5 linked regions of the Homo sapiens genome follow. The protein of the gene in region 1 purifies or fractionates together with the protein of each later gene. This does not show direct contact. Each region holds a gene or a part of one and is shown in the gene's direction. Other genes may lie near its edges. The genes, in order: TBCE, EDRF1, OGFOD1, FYB2 and DNAJC13.

Region 1 (4,101 bases):
TAATCTCAGAACCTAACTTTCCAAGGGCTTAGCCAGGCTTCCTCCATTTTTTTTTTTTTGAGGCAGAGTCTCACTCTGTTGCCCAGGCTGGAGTACAGTGGTATGATCTTGGCTCACTGCAACCTTCGCCTCCCAGATTCAAGTGATTCTCCTGCCTCAGCCTCCCAAGTAGCTGGGACTAGAGGTGCCTACCACCACACCCGGCTAATTTTTATATTTTTAGTAGAGACGGGGTTTCATCATGTTGGCCAGGCTAGTCTTGAACTCCTGACCTCAGGTGATCCATCTGCCTTGGCCTCCCAAAGTGCTGGGATTACAGGCGTGAGCTACCGTGCCCAGCACAGGTTTCCCCTTTCATTCTTGAACCATTTTTGCATAGACATGTGAGTGTACAGTAAAGCCGGTAGACAGGCCTGAATGAGTTGTGCTCCCAAATAGAGCAAACGGGGGCAATTCAACCCATGGTGTCTCATCTTCTGGAAATACGGGCTTGTGTTTTTTAATAGTATCGTCTTTCAAAGTGACTGTCAGGATTGAATACTTTCTGAGATTAGGGTTTTGAGAAATAATTTAAGGGGCAATAATTTCATCCATCCTCATAGCCAAAGGGCAGACTCTATGTTTAGAGAAGCAAAATTCTAGCCCATGATTCAGTGTATCAGTAAGACTCTGGAGAACGGGACTTTGTTTTGCAGTATCCAGAGCCATATCTTGTGAAGCTGGAAGCTCACCTTGCAAATGCCTGAGTTTTGGGTTTAGGAAGCCTACAGCCGCATACAGGTGCCCTAATCCTGTGAAAGCATCTTTACACAGCTGATACCAAAAAGTTGTATGTTGTAAATGTTAAAAATTAGGTAGTCTTGATTCACTTGAATCATTAAAAAAGTGATTTTTAAAATATAATTCCATTTTAAGATTGAAACAAATCAAACCCCTTAGATTAAAACCCAGATTGTTGCTTTCAACAACTATTTCAGTTGGGTTTACTGTATAGAAATAAGTACATTGTATCTTTTTTTTCTACACAGTGAAAATAAACTAAAATTTCCCTCCGGTTCAGTATTAACTGGAACGCTTTCTGTACTGAAGGTTTTAGTCCTCAATCAAACAGGAATAACGTGGGCTGAGGTAATCATATTTCTTTGTTTTATTACACATTAATAAGCAATTAAAAATGTTTGGTTTAATAGAGAATTGTTAGTACAGTTTAATAGTACAACTGTGGCTTCATTTAAATCATCCCAGTATCTATTAATAGATAACAAGATTCATTAAAGTGCCTTATAAAAACGAGTTAAAAGAGCATCATAGTTGAGTTTTGCATCTGGAAATCCATGTCCTATCTCAGCTCATTTTGACTTGTTCTGGTGCCTTTATAAACAGTGGCGCTCCGTTATGGTATGAACCAGTATGTGCTGAGCTTCAAAAAGCCGTAGTGTTGGCTATTGACTAGCTTCCTGAGTTTTCCTGTTAGTTTTTTTTAGAACAGAAGCCAAGCAGCAGAAAGGTTCTCACATACTTTTCTTGTTAGAAGTTCGGCTCTTGGAATCCACTGTTCATTTTATACAGCCGGGCTCAAAAGTAGACTTGTGGGTCCTTGGCACAGCAGCATTTGGGACTTATATCTGGCAGTACTATTTCCTGTCTGAGGTGTACTGACTTCACACACCCAGAGCATTCCACTTTCTTTTTTTTTTTTTTTGAGACGGAGTTTTACTCTTGTTGCCCAGGCTAGAGTGCAATGGTGCAACCTTGGCTCACTGCAACCTTTGCCTCCCAGGTTCAAGCGATTCTCCCACCTCAGCCTCCCAAGTAGCTGGGATTACAGGCATGTGCCATCACACCCAGCTAATTTTGCATTTTTAGTAGAGACATGGTTTCTCCATGTTGGTCAGGCTGGTCTCGAACTCCTGACCTCAAGTGATTTGCCCGCCTCGGCCTCCCAAAGTGCTGGGATTAGAGGTGTAAGCCACCGTGCCCAGCCCACTTTCATTTTTATTTATTTATTTTTCTTGAGACAGAGTCTCACTCTGTTGCCCAAGGTGGAGTGCAGTGGCGCAATCTCGGCTCACTGCAACCTCCGCCTCCCAGGTTCAAGTGATTCTTCCGCGTCAGCCTCTCAGGTAGCTGGGATTACAGGCATGTACCACCATGCCCAGCTAATTTTGTATCTTTAGTAGAGACAGAGTTTCTCCATGTTGGTCAGGCTGGTCTCGAACTCCTGACTTCAGGTGATCCACCCACCTCGGCCTGCTAAAGTCCTGGGATTACAGGCGTGAGCCACCGTGCCCAGCCCACTTTCATTTTTATTTATTTATTTTTCTTGAGACAGAGTCTCGCTCTGTTGCCCAAGTTGGAGTGCAGTGGCATGATCTCGGCTCACTGCAACCTCCGTCTCCTGGGTTCAAGCAATTCTCCAGCCTCAGCCTCCAAAGTAGCTGGGATTACAGGCGCTTGCCACCATGCCCAGCTTATTTTTGTATTTTTAGTAGGGACAGGGTTTCACCATGTTGGCCAGGATGGTCTTGAACTCCTGACCTCAAATGATCTGCCTGTCTCAGCCTCCCAAAATGCTGGGATTACAGGCGTGAGCCACTGTGCCCAGCTTGGGCATTCCACTTTCAAACCAAGGGTGTAGAAATACATTCCCAGCCATGTTCACCCAGGAAGTGCCACAGAGGCCACTCAGTGAGAGACAGGTGGGCCCCTTGTGCCCTTAATATGCCCGTGGCCATGGAGCCTCTTTCCTAGGGCCCCTCCTCTGTGAGGCGCTTACTCCCTCTCAAGGTGTAGATGTAGCTGGAAGACAAGAAGGGGCCAGACACTGGCACTGGGGCTCACACCTGCAATCCCAGCGCTTTGGGAGGCTGAGGTGGGAGGATCACTTGAGCCCAGGAGTTTGAGGCTGCAGTGAGCTAGGATTGCACCTTTGCACTCCAGCCTGGGTGACAGAGCAAGACGCATCTCACCCTCCAAATAAACTAGGAAGGGCACACAGAAATTGAAGTGGTGGAGATGGCAGTAAAGTTCCAGTGAGAAAATTTAGAAATAGTTGGTGAGGCTGGTCATGGTGGCTCTCGCCTATAATTCCAGCCAGCACTTTGAGAGGCCCAGGCAGGAGAATCACTTGAGGCCAGGAGTTCAAGACCCACCTAGGCAACATAGAGAGATCCTGTAGATGCTATATATATATTATATATTATTATACATAATTATATAATATATAATAATTTTTTGTAATTTTTTTTTTTGTAAAAAAAAAAAATTAGGCTCATGCGCAGTGTGGTGGCAGCAGGCACGGTCTCGACATGCAGAAAGACGCCAGCAAGTTCGTGGATCTGTGCGTGCTGCAGAAATGCTCCACCAGCAACTGCATCATCAGTGCCAAGGACCACACATCCATGCGGATGAACGTGGCCAAGGCCAGTGAGGTCACGGGCAGGTTTAACAGCCAGTTTAAAACCTGTGCTATCTGCAGGACTGTTTGCAGGATGGGTGAGTCAGATGATTCCATTCTCTAATTGGCCATGGCCAAGGGCGTCATCTCAACTATTTGGTTTTTGAGATGGAGTCTTGCTCTGTTGCCTAGGCTGGAGTGCAGTGGTGTGATATTGGCTCACTGCAACCTCTGCCTCCTGGGCCAAAATGATTCTCCTGCGTCAGCCTCCCAAGTAGCTGGGATTACAGACGTGCACTACCACGCCTGGCTAATTTTTTGTATTTTTAGTAGAGATGGGTTTTCACCACGTTGGCCAGGCTGTTCTCAAACTCCCGACCTCAAGCATTCTGTCTGCCTCAGCCTCCCAAAGTGCTGGGATTACAGGCGTGTGCAACCATACCCGGCCATTTTTGTATTTTTAGTGGTAATGGGTTTCATCATGTTGGCCAGGCTGGTCTCCAACTCCTGACCTCAAGTGATCCACCTGCCTTGGCCTCCCAAAGTGCTGGGATTACAGGCATGAACTCACTGTGCCCGATCTCAAAGAACTTTTGATTGGAGAGAATCATGGATGTAGAATATTTGTCATAAATATATAATGAAAACTTTAAAAAATGTATAATTAAAAAAATAATGAAAGAAGAAATAATTGTTGAGAAATT
Region 2 (4,101 bases), on another chromosome or scaffold:
GCAGAAAAATGATCATTTGTTGAGTAAAGAAGGTAGCGATGGGCTGGACTTTAAATAAAGAGTATTCCTTGTAGAGGAAACAGTAAACTAAGATGGGAGATAGGAAAAACAGGCATGTTTATAGGTGACAAGCAGTAACTTAACATTGGCTGATGGGTAGTAGGATGGACAAGTAGGAAGTGAGACTGAGAAACATGCAACTAGCTAAGTGGGGAGAAGCCGTTTTCATGTTTGAGGACAGGCTTTCACGCTGATCTAAGCTGTGCTTTAGGAAGGTAAACTTTGACAGGTTGACACATAGACTGGAAAAAGGAGACAGGTGTCACTCATGAGGTTAGCTATGTCAGTGACACTGGAAGAGAATGACAGAGTTGCCGATGTCAGGGAAGCAGAAGGCCTTAGAACTCCCAAGTGAGAGTCTTTTAACACGGCCATTTCACTCCAGTGTATTTAAGCAGTAAAGCATAGTATTTACCAGTCTTGTCACCTAAGTCTAGAGTGTTTCCATCAAGAAACAGAAAATATTTTTTGTGCATGAGACTTACAGTCAAATGAAATGTGCTGTCTTTTTTTTTCTCTCCATGTCACAGTGGGCTCCCTTCAGAAGGGCAATTATTCCAGTCAATCTGGAATGATCCCTGGCTCTTGGCAACATAAAATGAAACTTCAGCTGATTCTCAAGTCATCAAAGGCCTATTATGTTTTGTCCGATGCTGCCATGAGTCTTCAGAAATACGGAAGAGCATTACGATACATTAAATTAGCTTTGCAAAGCCATGGTAAGCCACTATAAATGAATATGTTTAATAGGCACTGGGAAGAGAGAACAGAGAAGGCATCTGAATCACAGTGGAAGTTTACTCCTATTTTTCTAGTAAATCTTTATTTTAAAATGACTGTTTCCAATCCTGTGTGTGTTACCTTCTATTTTAGTTTCTGCTCAGTGGTTTAACATCTCTTTGCTTTGAACTACATGAAGCCGTAATATGTATTGTTGGACCTAAAATAAACAGAATAGATACAGTGCTACAAAGCGTTCAGCTGGTAACACAGTTTCTTCATATTTCCTATGATCATTAATTTTTTTCTGCATTTGTGTTTTTTCTTCTTCCCTCCCTTTCTAAACAGATACTTATTGCTGCCTCTGCACCAATATGCTTTCCGAAGTGCTGTTGTTTCTCTCTCAATATTTGACACTTTGTGGTGATATCCAACTAATGCTGGCCCAGAATGCAAATAATAGAGCAGCACACCTTGAAGAGTTTCATTACCAAACAAAAGAAGACCAGGAGATCCTGCATAGCCTTCACAGAGAGTCCAGTTGCCAAGGTGTGCCACAGGCTTGGACCACGTGGTTCACAGTGGGACTGTGCAGTCTAGCTCATGCTTATTTGAGTATTCAGAAAAGGGGTAGAAATATTAGAGTTTTGATATTTGCTCTGTATTTATTTATTTATTTTTTGAGACGGAGTTTCGCTCTTGTTGCCCAAGCTGGAGTGCAATGGTGCAATCTTGGCTCACTGAAACCTCCGCCTCCCGGGTTCAAGCAATTCTCCTGCCTCAGCCTCCCAAGTAGCTGGAATTACAGGCATGCGCCACCATGCCCGGCTAGCCCACCTTGGCCTCCCAAGGTGCTGGGATTACAGGTGTGAGCCACCACGCCTGGCCTGCTGTTTTATTCATTTCCTAATTTTAAGATTAAGCATGATCTTGTGTATTTGTATAAAATGGTTTTTAAGTATTTTATAATTACTGTTTATATAACTAGAACTAAATATAAAGTAAGATATGAAGACAGTTGTGTCAACTTTTTATTTTATTTTATTTATTTATTTTTTTGAGACACAGTCTCGCTCTGCCACACAGGCTGGAGTGCAGTGGGGCAGTCTTGGCTCACTGCAACCTCCACCTCCTGGGTTCAAGTGATCCTCCCATCTCAGTCTCCCAAGTAGCTGGGACTAGTACATGCGCCACCACACCTAGCTAATTTTTGTATTTTTGTTAGAGACAGGGTTTCACCACGTTGCCCCAGACTGGTCTCAAACTCCTCAACTCAAGCGATCCTCCCACCTTGGCCTCCCAAAGTGCTGGGATTACAGGCACGAGCCACTGCACCCAGCCTTGTGTCAGCTTTTTACACTCTTCTTTTCATGAGGTTCTTCTAGGTAACACTTGTAGTCAGCTAACAAAGCCATAGGTTTCCTTTTGAAAGGTATAACAGTTGGTGAAGGAGGTTAATTAACCTTCTGAATGATTCCTTGGGGCTGAAATAAAGTGATCATTGTTTTTAAAGTTAGTTCATAGCCACCTGTCTTGCTTAATATGTCACTCTGTTTGGAATTGTCAGGCTTTAAAACTGGGAAGTAGAATAATCTGATCCGCAGCAGCGATATCCCTCCCTCTTACCTCAGCACAGTGTGTAACCACGCTGCCATTAACACAGTGAATGAAGTAAAAGATGAGTCTTCTGAAGGTGCTTCTGTAATGTCTCATGGGGTTGTTTTATTATGCTCTTAAATTGTTATACTGAATATTACTTGATGTTTGCCTCCCAGAGTTTTAGACAATTCATAGCTAGAGGAGTATACTGGGGGAGAGGGAAAAATGTGTTATTTTGTAATAGTTTTGCCCTTTCTTCCCCTCTCTCCGTCTTTCTCAAATAATCATGTTTTAATGTAGTAGGAAAGTCCTTGGTGTATTTTTACTACTCCCATCATAGCAATTTCAGTTAAATATTCTTTTTACTCTAGTCCCCACTAGATGGCATTTTTAATCTTCGAGGGCTTCTGTAGCAGCCTCTTCAGTGACTTAAAGTTAATATTGGGACATTATTTCAAGAACTATTTCCATTAGTTAAAAATAGCAACTTTACTTTGTATTAGTGGACAACTTTAGGTCCATTCTAATAAACAAGTGTACCTGGGAAAACCTGGGTCACAGAAATTGTTTGATATTCATAGGCAGGAAAATATTTTTATCCAACATTAATATCCCAAGAAATATAATTTTATAAATAAATAGATCTTTATTATGAAACTTAAATATTGTTGTATTGATTGAATCTTGGTATACTTACACTATATTGCATTTTTTATTACTTAGAATTTAGAATCTCAGGTTCATTTGGATACTGAGGAAGAAGGAATCACATGATTCGCATTGATGTATCCCTTTTTTCTTTTCAGGATTTGCATGGGCAACTGATTTGTCTACAGACTTAGAAAGTCAACTCTCTGTTAGTTGTAAATGTTATGAGGCTGCTAATGAAATCTTGCAGTTTAGTGACTTGAAAAGCCAAAATCCAGAACACTATGTACAAGTATTAAAGAGAATGGGTAACATTAGAAATGAAATTGGTGTGTTTTACATGAATCAGGCTGCTGCATTACAGAGTGAGAGACTAGGTGAGTATCTCTTTAGATTCCTCTCTATTGCTTGTTCTCTCAGAAAATTATGCTAATTTTGTATGAGTCAAGCAAAGAACTGTGGCACTTGATTTTATATCATAAAGAGGTGCTCTATTAGAGAACCTCTTATTATTCTTAAGAAATAGAATTAGGAACACATGATTTTCCCTTGGAATGAATTATTTCAATGTTCTTCATTCTTACTTTTGTACTCACTCCATCTGATCAATTCAGAAGCAAATGGGACATCCAGCCATGTGCCAGGCTCTATGTTGGATATGTAACTGGCTAAAATATGGTTCTCTCTTCATGTTGGGAAGCTAGATAGGAACACAAAGCCTCAAAATGCTGTGGATGAGTACCGACGAAGTATAATGGGAGACTGGGGAAATAAGACATTTATGGAGGTTATAAGTTAGAAGGCTTTTGGGAAAGTGTTGTTGAGCAGGGTGATGCAGGATGTGTAGAGCATCAGCCGGCAAATGTGAGGAAAGGAGGGCACTCCAGACCAAGGAGGCGGTGTGAGGAAGAAGCCAGGGATCTCAAAGGGTGCAAGTGTACGTTTAGAGGGAGCAAGAGGCCTGTGTGAGGAAGATGTGGGATAGTGGGTAAGTAAGATGTGGGATGGCGTAGTAAGATGTGGGATGGTGTAAGTAAGATGTGAGATGGTAAACCATTTGGGCCCATGTTGAAT
Region 3 (3,500 bases), on another chromosome or scaffold:
TATAACTGTTTGGTTAGAAGCATATGGGTCACAACTTGAACTTGTAATCAGTATCTGAAGTGGGGTTGGGGGAGAGGGCACACTGGGGGCAGTCTCATGGGACTAAGCCCTTAACCTTTATTAATGCCTGGTAGATAGTGTCAGAATTGAATTGAATTTTAAGACACTCAGCTGGTGTCAGAGAATTGGTCAGTGTGGGGGGATAAGCCCACACATTTGGCATTGGAAGTGAAGTAAAGTGTGTAAAGAAAAACAGTTGAGGCCAGGTGCTGTGGCTCATGCCTATAATCCCAGCACTGGAGGCCGAGGCAGGCGGATCACTTGAGGTCAGGAGTTGGAGACCAGCCTGGCCAACATGACAAAACCCCATCTCTACTAAAAATATAAAAATTAGCCGGGCGTGCTGGTGCATCCCTGTAGTCCCAGCTACTCGGGAGACTGAGGCAGGAGAATCACTTGAACCCAGGAGGCAGAGGTTGCAATGAGCCAAGATCACACTGCTGTACCCCAACCTGGGCAACAGAGCAAGACTCTATCTCAAAAAAAAAAAAAGAAAGAAAAGAAAAGAAAAACAGTTGAGCTTTCCATTTTAGTGCTGAAAAACTTGTCTGAAAATCAGTAACTTGGACTAGACCACTGGTGTGATGAGTTGTTATGACAAAGGCCAAACTGCTGCCATGACAGGGCATACTTTAAATTTAGGAGAAAGAAAATACTGAGAAAACATGAACCATTAGAACAAAAAATAACAAATATAATGTAGGTAGAGACTTACATTTATTTTTCTGGGAACATTAGACTTAAACTATGCAAATTTGAACTGAGAAACATTTCTCAGAATGTCTCAAATGAGATCGGAGAATGGATCTCTTGAATACAATGTGATCTCCAGGAAAGAAAAGTTGTGGCCTAGATCCAAACAGTTGTGACCTAGATCCCACACTGTGGCATAACAAGTTATCTTTTGTTTACATTTCTAGGAAAATTCTGTTTGAAGATTTCCGGTCCTGGCTTTCTGATATTTCTAAAATTGACCTGGAATCAACCATTGACATGTCCTGTGCTAAATATGAATTCACTGGTAAGGAAGATAAAGGCCTGGTGTCTGTAAGATATAAAGGCTTTAACTCAGCATTAATGGAGAGATGGTATCTGTGTACCAAAACACTCAACTGAATGTCCCTGCAAAGCATCCGGATCTTCCTGATAAAGACCCAGTTCATAGACAGAAATACCCACCTTATTGGAAGGCATAAGCAGTGGTTGTCTTTCAGAATATGATGAAAGCTACTGACCATATTTTCAGCAAAATCCCCATAACATACATACACACCAACTGTACATACAATATCAAGAAATTCAGAGTGATATATAAACTCTATTCTTAGACTTCCTAAGGAACAACCATCTCCTTCAATGCCATTCTCCCTTCTCTTTTTTATTTTGAAGGCAATAAGTGAATGCATTCTTAAAGGAAAAAAAATCAAACAATATTGCAGGTATATGGTGTAAACCATGATAGCCTTCTTCACCTTCTCCCTGCTCCCTCTTCTCTTCAGAGGTACCTATTGTCACCAGTTTGGGGTGCATCCTTCCATTTCTCTTTCTGAGCATATAAATGGTTTTTTTGGATACAAGCTTGGTTTTTCACCCAGAAGGAAAAGGTTTTTTCTTTTTTAAATTTTACTAAATAAAATAATTCTTTGAGTGTACTCTCATACACTGTCCTGGAAGTATAGATGGCTCACAACTTTTAGAGGATGACTTGGTGATACATAGGAAAAGCCATATCATGTATCTTCATTTACTGCCATGTCATTTCTTTTTTGGGTTTTTTTTTTTTTTTTTTTTTTTTTTTTTTGGTTTGTTGGTTCGTTGGTTCGTTTTGAGACGGAGTCTCCCTCTGTTGTCCAGGCTGGAATGCAGTGGCGTGATCTCGGCCCACTGCATCCTCCACCTCCCGGGTTCAAGTGATTCTCCTGCCTCAGCCTCCTGAGTATCTGGGATTACAGGCATATGCCACAATGCCTGGCTAATTTTTGTATTTTTAGTAGAGATGGAGTTTCACCAGTTGGCTAGGCTGGTCTCAAACTCCTGACCTCAAGTGATCCGCCTGCCTTTGCCTCCCAAAATAGTGGGATTACAGGTGTGAGCTACCATGCCAGTATTTTTTTTTTTTTTTTACTTTGAAGTAATTTCAAACTTGCAGAAAAGTGGCAAGCATAGTACAAATAATTTATTTTTTCCTATTTTACTTGAGAGTAAGTTGTTGGCATGATGTTCTATGACCCCTGAATACTTCAGTAATTTCTACAAGGACATTCTCCTACATGATAATCATAAACCATCAGAATCAGGAAATTTACGTTGATGCCTTATTCCACATCAATGGATTATCTAATCCTCAGGCTCCATTCAGGTTTCATTATTTGGTCCTTTATAGCAAAAGGACCCAGTCCAGGATTGCATGTTGCATTTAGTTATAATATTGTCTCTTCAGCCTCCCTCAATCTAGAACAGCCCCTCCATCTTTCCTGGACTTTCATGATCTTTATGCTTTTGAAGATGTACAGATGAGTTATTTTGGAAAACTTGCTTCAGTTTGGGATTGTCTGATGTTTTCTCATGATTAGATTCAGGCCATATATTTTTGGCAGGATTACAGAAATTAATCCTGTATTCTTTTCACTGTATCAGGTGGTGCATGGTTTCAGTGTGTCACATTATTAGTGATATGAACTTGGATCACTTGATTAATGTGGTGGCTGACATCAGGTTTTTCCACTGTTCTTTTTCCCTATCAGTATATATTTTGTGGGGAGATACTTTAAGATTATGTAAATATCCCATTTCTCATCAAAGTTCGATTTGCTTATTTTAGCATTCTCTGATGTTTCTTGCTAAATTATTACCATGAAGGTTGCCAGATGGTGATTTTATAACACAATCATTTCTCTACATTTATTGTCATTCCACTCTAGAGAAGACCTTTCTCCTGATTTATTTATTCATTCGTTTATATTGGTATGGATTTATGGATTGCTGGTTGTGTAATGAGCTGTTACCAGTTACTATCATTATATTGATGCTCATACTGTCCCTGATTTATCAAGGAGAACCCCGTCAAACTGACTTCTGCGTTCTTTTGCTATGTCCCCATCATTCTTTTTTTTTTCCTACTTTCTGCAAAACAAGATTTTCCAAGCTTATCTTTGTATTTTCCATGCCAACGTCCTAGAATGACCTGGAGTTGGCCATTCTTCCAAAGAATCCTGGTTCCTTTTAGTGAAGAAAGATACTTAACAATCAAGATCTGGACTCTTAAGTGTCTTTGCTATTAGGGTGTCACTGCTCCCAGACCCCTTCAGTTTGAAGAGGTGGTGAATATCTGTATACATGTATATACACATGTGGATGCACACACATACATTTACATTTGGAATGTATTTCTTTTTTTTTTTTTTTAGACTGTCTCTCACTCTGTTGCCCAGGCTGGAATA
Region 4 (3,500 bases), about 180 Mb from region 1:
AGAAAACATTACTGTAAGGCTAGTTATTTCTGTATCAATTTCTGTATCATTTTTAAAATGATTTCTACCATAATGTATTCTAACAGTAAGTAAGAAGTATTAGTTCAACCCTTTTATTATTCTTTTATCAATCAAAGATGATGGCAAGTTTAAAGAAAAGTTGGCTAAGGTTATCTGTCTTAGTCTGTTTGTGTTGCTATAAAGGAACACCTGAGGCTGGGTAATTTATAAAGAAAAGAGGTTTATTTAGTTCATGGTTCTGTAGACTGTACAAGAAGCATGACATTGGCATCTGCTTCGGTGAAGGCCTCAGGCTGCTTCTACTCATGGCAGAAGGTGAAGGAGAATGTGCAGACATCACATGGCTATAAAGGAAGAGAGACAGACAAGTGAGGTGCCAGGCTCATTTTAACAAATGAGATGCCAGGCTCTAGGAAACTGTGAGAGTGGTAACTCACTCATTACCAAGAGGACAGTAGCAAGCCATTCATGAGGGAGACAACCCCATGACCCAAACATCTCCCATTAGGCCCCACCTCCAACATTAGGGACCAAATGTCAACATGAGGTTTGGAGGAATCAAATATCCAAACCATAGCAGTATCCCATGTATAACAGCATGAAAAGGATAACCCACTTTCTAAGATGACCCAAGTAGACATTGTAATGTGTAGGGAAATGGGCAGCTGATGAAGCTGGAAAGATGATCAGGCCAGATTATAAAATGCTAATGAATTTAGACTTTATCCTATTGGCAATAGAGAGAAATTGAAAGGTTTTAAGCAAGAGAGTGACATAACTAAATTTTAGAAAAATGACTCTGCAGGCAGATACACCAATGAATTTGAGGAAGGTGAGGTAAGACGAAGATGGCATCTCAGGCAATAAGTAGTGATAATCTGAAATATGGCAGTGGCTGTAATCTTGGAAATAAACAAATGTAGGGGACACTTAGGAATAAGACTAACAGGACTTGGTTGACTTTTTTACTTCTGTCAATACATTGAACTGCTAAAAAGAAGAACCAAATCTCATGTGAAGAGCAAGAGGGAGGACTAAGAGTATAATCAGCTTCTTCTGTAGGGTTATTTATTTTTAAGTGCTGAAATTCTCACACGTTTTGTGGCATCTTTCTTTATTTTCTTAATGGTATTCATCCTCCAAAACATTCAGCAAACTGGAGAGCTCTTCGATTGAACCATGTAGACTTGTGATCCCCAATTAGGTTTAACAACTTAGAAAACCACACAAAGTAAGCTGCTTACTTATTCTTACTGGTTTCCATTAAATAGTCTGAAGGTGAATGGGAACATTTATAAATTTCCTAAACCTAAAAAAAAGAAAAAGTTATATCTCTAAGTCTCATTCAGACAAGTTTCTTGTTTACCTTCATTTGTTTAACCAATGTGATTTTATCCCGTTATTATCTTGCCATCAAAAATATTTTTTTAATTGTAGCGAAAAGCAATTGACATTACCCTGATCAGTTGTTTGACAATTTGCTCTAATGGAAATATATGTGTGTATTTGTATTATGAACCTACATACGTGTGTGTACATATACACAAATACAGATGCGTGACTTTGTGTATTATTTTATATAAAATTATGATCACAAAAAATTATACCTGAATTTATCCTGAAATGAAGTGACTTCGTAGGCTCAGAAACTTAAAAAGTTTTATTATAGTACGTTTTACCCTACCTGCACATTTCTTGCTAGTTTCTCTCCTAGAAATTTCTTCAAAACCAAGAAGCAAAACTTAGAAAAGAACAGAATGAAAAGAGAAGAAAAACTATTTAGAGAAAGGTTTAAGGTACGTTCTCTTCTGAAGGTAAAAATTAGCAATATTAACAGCTAGGAGCTTTCATTTAAAAAAAAAATCTGTAAGTATGCTGTGCCTCTGCCTCTCTGAGATACAGACATGATCTTTGACACAAAAAGCCAGCATTTCATTCCTATTTTTTCCTGGTACATTTCTATATTGTTATGTCTGTCCATGCTATTCCTTCTTCCTGGAAAAACTCCTAAGTTGTTCTTGAAGGCTCTGTTCAAATGTCACCCACTCCTCCCTAACTCGTCCAGGTTAAGTTACTCCTTCAGCACATTTTATATGTCTATTTTACACGTCTTTTGTAACACTGATTAGTTGTATTAAAGCATTTGTGTGTGTGTGTGCGTGTGTGTGTGTGTGTGTGTCTGTGAATCTTTAATTAATCTCTTGAGTCCTTTTTGAGAAAGAAACCCTGTCTCATTCAAGTTTGTTCCCCAGGGCCTGACATAAAACTGTAAGCACAGTGTTTGGTAAATGAATGCCTAAATAAACAAGCAAATGAATGACAAAATGAACAAATGAATGATGCAGCATCCGAAGCTCTCTGCCTTCTTATTCTGTTATTAAGAGTCCATGGGACATTTTTTCATTATTCTAAAGCTCAAACTTCCCTGATTTCATATATTGTCAAAGTGAGGATTATTAACTATGAAACATACTGAGCACCTTCCATGTGCTAGACACTGGACTGAGAGAGACAAAGTGTGCATCCTCCTCATAGTCACTATGCTGCCTAAAATTTTTCAAAAATTCCCCCTTGCAAAATGGTTAAAGTTTAGGCTTCTTAACATGGCATAGAAAGCTCTTTATGTCCTGATCTTTGCATATCTTCCTGGCTTTATCTCTTGCCACTCTTTGCCTTGCACTTTCTGCTTTGGCAACAAACTGCTCATAGTTCTGTCCCTCGAATGAACCTCCACCTCTATCTTTGTCTTGCTATTTCATCCCTCTAAGTGCTTCCTTGGTCTATTCCAACTCTCTGGTACACCTTTGCACTTTTCTGTATCTGACTAGCTCGTTCATTTATCAAGACCCAGTCGAGGCATCTCCTCTTCTCCAGGAAGACTTGCCCAAATCTTCTAATTAAATAAATTACTCTTCTTCTGTTTACCTATATACTTGAGCAATCTCTAGCTTATCACACATTAAAGTAATTGGAATTACATGTTCATCATATTACACTATGAGCTCCTAGAGGACAATGGTTATTTTATTTATGTTTATATCCATGTGCAGAGCATAATAAGGCTGCTTAGCATTTTGTAAACATGCATAAAATATTTTTTGAGATGAACTAAAATAGGAATGTACACAAATCTCTCATCATCACTGATAATTCCTGTTTGAACCAAAGCTGATTGGGGTTACTATATCTAGAAATTGTGATATGTTATTATCTACTGCAACCCTGATGTTACTTGATTAATTGAAAAACAACAGTGAGGCAATTACTTGTTGAAAAGACCCTTATATTCCATCCAATCCTTTTTTCCACCTCTGTGTGTTTTTTATTGTTTCATGTGTGAAAGATATTCCATTTCCTGTATATGTGTATAATTCCATTCTTATTACCTGTAGTGGGTTTCCTTGATAGGCCATTTCAATAATTTTTGTCCAGCTCAAATCATAAAACGTTGTATAGCTCACTTGTGCCAGGCACTGGGG
Region 5 (4,101 bases), on another chromosome or scaffold:
CTGCTGTGCAGATTGAGAGGGAGAGGAACAGCAACAGAACTTTTAAGAGGGTCAAGAAACTGCTGTGATTCTTCCCCTCTGCCTCTTCTATGGAAAAAAGCTTTAATCTCTGGGGAGAAGGGTATCTCTGTTGGCCCCATTGGTGAACATTCAGGGGGTAGATGAGAAGTGGGAGAGAATCTTATGCCTGGAGGAGGGGCCCTGAGCCCAAAACTGCAGTCGGGAGTGGTCAACAGAACCGAGAGTGCTGCCCTCCTGAGATTCAGGAACACAGTGTTTGACTTAGACTTAATCAGAACATCAGACTGTATCCCCCACCCCCAACCCCCTGCCACCAAGCTAAGAAGCTTTCAGTAACAAGTAACCCACAAAATACTACTAGGAAAGGAACAAGATTATGCAAAGAGGCACAACACAAAGAATCAAACAGGCATTGCTCTAGTAAACCATCGCCCACCAGAGAGACAAACTGTTCTGCAGATTCATGAAGGCTGTAATACACTGAGGATAACTATGGCAAAAACAAATCATAAACTAAGTCCAACTCCTAACCAGATTAACACAAACCCTTCACCAAAGGCCTCACAAAGAACAGGCGTGCTCATTTCCAGTCATAAAAATTACCTCAATCTCTACTCCTACACAACATGTCCAGCTTTTAACCAAAAATTATGAGGCCCATGAAAAAAACTCCCAAGAGAAAGAGCAGTCATCATTATACATTTTTTAAAAAGATAGGAGCTTAAAAAGAACTGTTTTGTACATGTTAAATACTATAATAATGACATTTTGCCTTGAAAAAGTTTGAGCAAACAATGCAGTGAGCATTGGATGGAGTTATAGTTTCTGAATTACTGTGAAGTAGTAGAAGGAAAAAAAGTTATAAGATGGAGTGGAAAATTAGTAACATATATGTGAATGTATGTGGTTCATTGACCACCTGAAGTGTGTGTGTGTATTTTGTGAATTCCTGCATGACTCAGTTGGGTACAATTTTCTGCGTTCACTTAGTGTTGGGACAGAATCACTATAAGCAAATGTGACATTTTCATTATGCTCAAATTGTTCAGTAATACACCAATCCTGTTAAAATTCACATGATCAAGAAAGCATTATAGCAGAATTGACTATATGCATTTCAATATGTAAATAGTTAAGTATGATTATACCAAAATACACAAAGGACGTGTCAGAGGCTTGTATCTTTACATGGAATCATTTTGAGATTTTTTTTGTGTGTGTGAGAGACAATCTTGCTCTGTCACCCAGGCTGGAGTGCAGTGGCACGATCTTGGCTCACTGCAACCTCTGCCTCAGCCTCCTGAGTAGCTGGGACTACAGGCGCTTGCCACCATGCTGGGCTGATTTTTTTTTTTTTCTGTATTTTTAGGAGACAGAGTTTCACCATGTTGCCCAGGCTGGTCTCGAACTCCTGACCTCAAGTGATCCACCCACCCAGGCCTCCCAAAGTGCTGGGATTACAGGTGTGAGCCACCATGCCTGGCCCATTTTGATTTTTGACAGAAATGTTGATGTCTACAGATTTGTCACATTGGTGACTCAAATACCACAATTGAGATTATTAGCATTGTCAGAAAAGAACAGGGTTAATAAAGTATAATCTCTTAATTTACATTGCAGCCACATTCCTGGAAAAATCTCTGTATATTAAACCCTGCAAAATGTACTTGGTGAGTTATATATAAAACAATTAGAGTCTGGGATTCATTCATTATAAATAGGTTTTTGCCTACATGACTAACCAACTAAGCATTTGGACTTCTGGACTTTTTTCTTTTTCCTTTTTTTTTTTCTTTTTTCAGACCTCACTCTGTTGCCCAGGCTGGAATGCAGTGACACGATCATAGCTCACTGTAGCCCTGATCTCCTGGGCTCAAGCGATCCTCCCACCTTAGCCTCCTTAGTATCTGGAGCCATAGGCACGCCATGCCCAGCTAACTTTTTTTTATTATTATTATTTTTAGTAGAGACGAGGTCTCACTATGTTGCCCAGGCTAGTCTCAAACTCCTGAGCTCAAGCAATCCTCCCACCTCAGCCTCTCAGAATGCTGGGATTACAGGTGTGAGCCACCATACCTGGCTCACTTGGACACTTGAAAGTCGTATGGTGTGGATGGTACTTATCTTTGGGACTGTAATGTATGTTGAATATCTAGTCTCATCCACTAAATGCTAGTAGTGCTCCCAGTCATAGTGCCTCAGATGGGATGGCATCCTAGCCCAACCATTACTTTAGTTCAAAATTTTAATCAGTGGTTTTCAACATATTTTTTCTGTTTCAGCAGTGTTCACATACCCAGCATATGCCAATTTATAACACTTCTTGTTATGTGGAGTGATTCTTAATCATAGGAACTCCTTTGAGAGTAACTGAGTTAGATTTCTTTGTAACAAATAGTTTAAACCAACATGGTTATGATCATCTTTGCTAATTTAAGATAGTTACCTGTGCAAAGGTACATTTAGGTGTGGTTCAGTCAATAAAACCATATAGCTTGCTAGTAATTCTTTTCAGATGCTCTTTATTCAATAGTCGACATATGGGAGTTTTACTTGTACTTTCATGGACTACTTGTGAAAAAGAGTGAGCTTTAAAGTCAGTGGAATTTTACAGTTTAAGCACTCAAGTTGCCCTTAGAAGAACACTGCCTAGTCACATATTTAGCACATGCCCAGTGGTAATATCTCTTTGCAATGGATTAATAAGAGTTTGATATTTTGATTATCAGATAGAAAACAAAACCCCTAAAGCAATCCAGAATTATTTTAGCTGGGTGCACAATAATCACACGTGTAATCCCAGCACTTGGAAGGCTGAGGCGGGAGGATCACTCGAGGCCAGGAGCTCCAACCTAGCTTGAGCAACCCCGTCTCATCAAAAAATGAAATAACTAGCTGGCTGTGGTGACGTGTGCTCGGGAGGCTGAGGCAGGAGGATTGCTTGAACCCAGGAGACTGAGATTACAGTGAGCTATGATTGTGTTGCTGCGTTTCAGTCTGGGTGACAAAGGAAGACCCTGTCTCTTAAAAAAAATTATTTCGACGCTTTGATTTTTGCCAGCTCTAGTTGCCACAACTTAATGGAAGGGTTGGTGAGGTTATGAATGGAGGAGATGTTCTCTAATATTTCATGTATTCTGTAATACATTTAAACGCTTATACATGGTGTTCTCACTTTTATTGTATTCCTTAGTCATCTAAGGCTATGGGGTTTCTCTCCTCAAACTTCTAGTCAAGCTACAGAATGTATTTTGAATGTTTATCAAATCTTAGAGCAGATAAGCCATTTTCCCCCCAAATCTTAGCACTAATGGGCTTAATTTTAAAAGTGAAACTTTGCTTTTTTAAGATAATTTGGTAGTGTTCTATAAACTGTAAAGCGCCACAGAAGAGGTAGGAATAATAGGGATATTTCAGAACTAAACTAGAAATGTATGTTTTTGCTATTTTGTATTGAGTGAAGGGGAAATTGTAGCAAATTAAACTTTTGTCTTTTAATAGTATAAAAAGAACAGTGTTTGGGTTTTCAGGATGCTTTCTGTAAAACTGTCTTCAAGTTGTATGTGTTAAAAGCTTAGGAAATTTAGTCCCGCATTATGCATTTACTGTAATGATAGGAAAAACAGCAACAAGTTAAAATATGGCTGCTAAAAATTTCTTTTGCCCATTTCAGGGCCTGTTTACCATAGTAGAGCATGATTATTAAGTGCCTTAATAAGCTGATAAGCTTAATAAGTTGATAAGCTGAAGACCTTACAGAAATAGTATAGTTTGTTCTTGCATAAGCCAGGTTATGCTTCAAAGATAAAATGAAATAGAAATTAGGTCTATAAAGTTACAATAATGTGTATAAACTAAAAATATGTAAATGATCAATAGCAATGATTTCAAAGCATTGCTTAAGTGAACATGTTTCTGGAAAGAAAGCTTTCAGGTGAGTATTTTAAGGCATTTTTAAGCTTTGGAAAGGGAAGGGTCATAGTAATACATCTTTCACAGAAAATTTGAATTTTTTTAACAACAGATAAACTTCTGTTTTGTCAGAAATACAAATTATTCCCCTCAGATGAAATGAGCATA

What was found.
Region 2: the proteins of TBCE (region 1) and EDRF1 purify together in Homo sapiens (affinity purification with mass spectrometry, with the first as the bait; one large-scale study listed by BioGRID). This does not show direct contact.
Region 3: the proteins of TBCE (region 1) and OGFOD1 fractionate together in Homo sapiens (co-fractionation; one large-scale study listed by BioGRID). This does not show direct contact.
Region 4: the proteins of TBCE (region 1) and FYB2 purify together in Homo sapiens (affinity purification with mass spectrometry, with the first as the bait; one large-scale study listed by BioGRID). This does not show direct contact.
Region 5: the proteins of TBCE (region 1) and DNAJC13 purify together in Homo sapiens (affinity purification with mass spectrometry, with the first as the bait; one large-scale study listed by BioGRID). This does not show direct contact.

The regions. Positions count from the first base shown.
Region 1 is NC_000001.11:235,429,677-235,433,777, forward strand, and holds part of TBCE (tubulin-specific chaperone E), read left to right. Parts: intron 1-1,028; coding exon 1,029-1,128; intron 1,129-3,269; coding exon of another isoform or gene 3,270-3,422; exon of another isoform or gene 3,423-3,556; intron 3,557-4,101. UniProt on the Homo sapiens protein: Tubulin-folding protein; involved in the second step of the tubulin folding pathway and in the regulation of tubulin heterodimer dissociation.
Region 2 is NC_000010.11:125,739,873-125,743,973, forward strand, and holds part of EDRF1 (erythroid differentiation-related factor 1), read left to right. Parts: intron 1-590; coding exon 591-779; intron 780-1,128; coding exon 1,129-1,329; intron 1,330-2,347; coding exon of another isoform or gene 2,348-2,367; exon of another isoform or gene 2,368-3,042; intron 3,043-3,185; coding exon 3,186-3,404; intron 3,405-4,101. UniProt on the Homo sapiens protein: Transcription factor involved in erythroid differentiation. Involved in transcriptional activation of the globin gene.
Region 3 is NC_000016.10:56,461,554-56,465,053, forward strand, and holds part of OGFOD1 (prolyl 3-hydroxylase OGFOD1), read left to right. Parts: intron 1-980; coding exon 981-1,081; intron 1,082-3,500.
Region 4 is NC_000001.11:56,721,905-56,725,404, reverse strand, and holds part of FYB2 (FYN-binding protein 2), read left to right. Parts: intron 1-1,723; coding exon 1,724-1,817; intron 1,818-3,500. UniProt on the Homo sapiens protein: Adapter protein that plays a role in T-cell receptor (TCR)-mediated activation of signaling pathways. Required for T-cell activation and integrin-mediated T-cell adhesion in response to TCR stimulation.
Region 5 is NC_000003.12:132,420,234-132,424,334, forward strand, and holds part of DNAJC13 (dnaJ homolog subfamily C member 13), read left to right. Parts: exon of another isoform or gene 1-1,484; intron 1,485-4,101.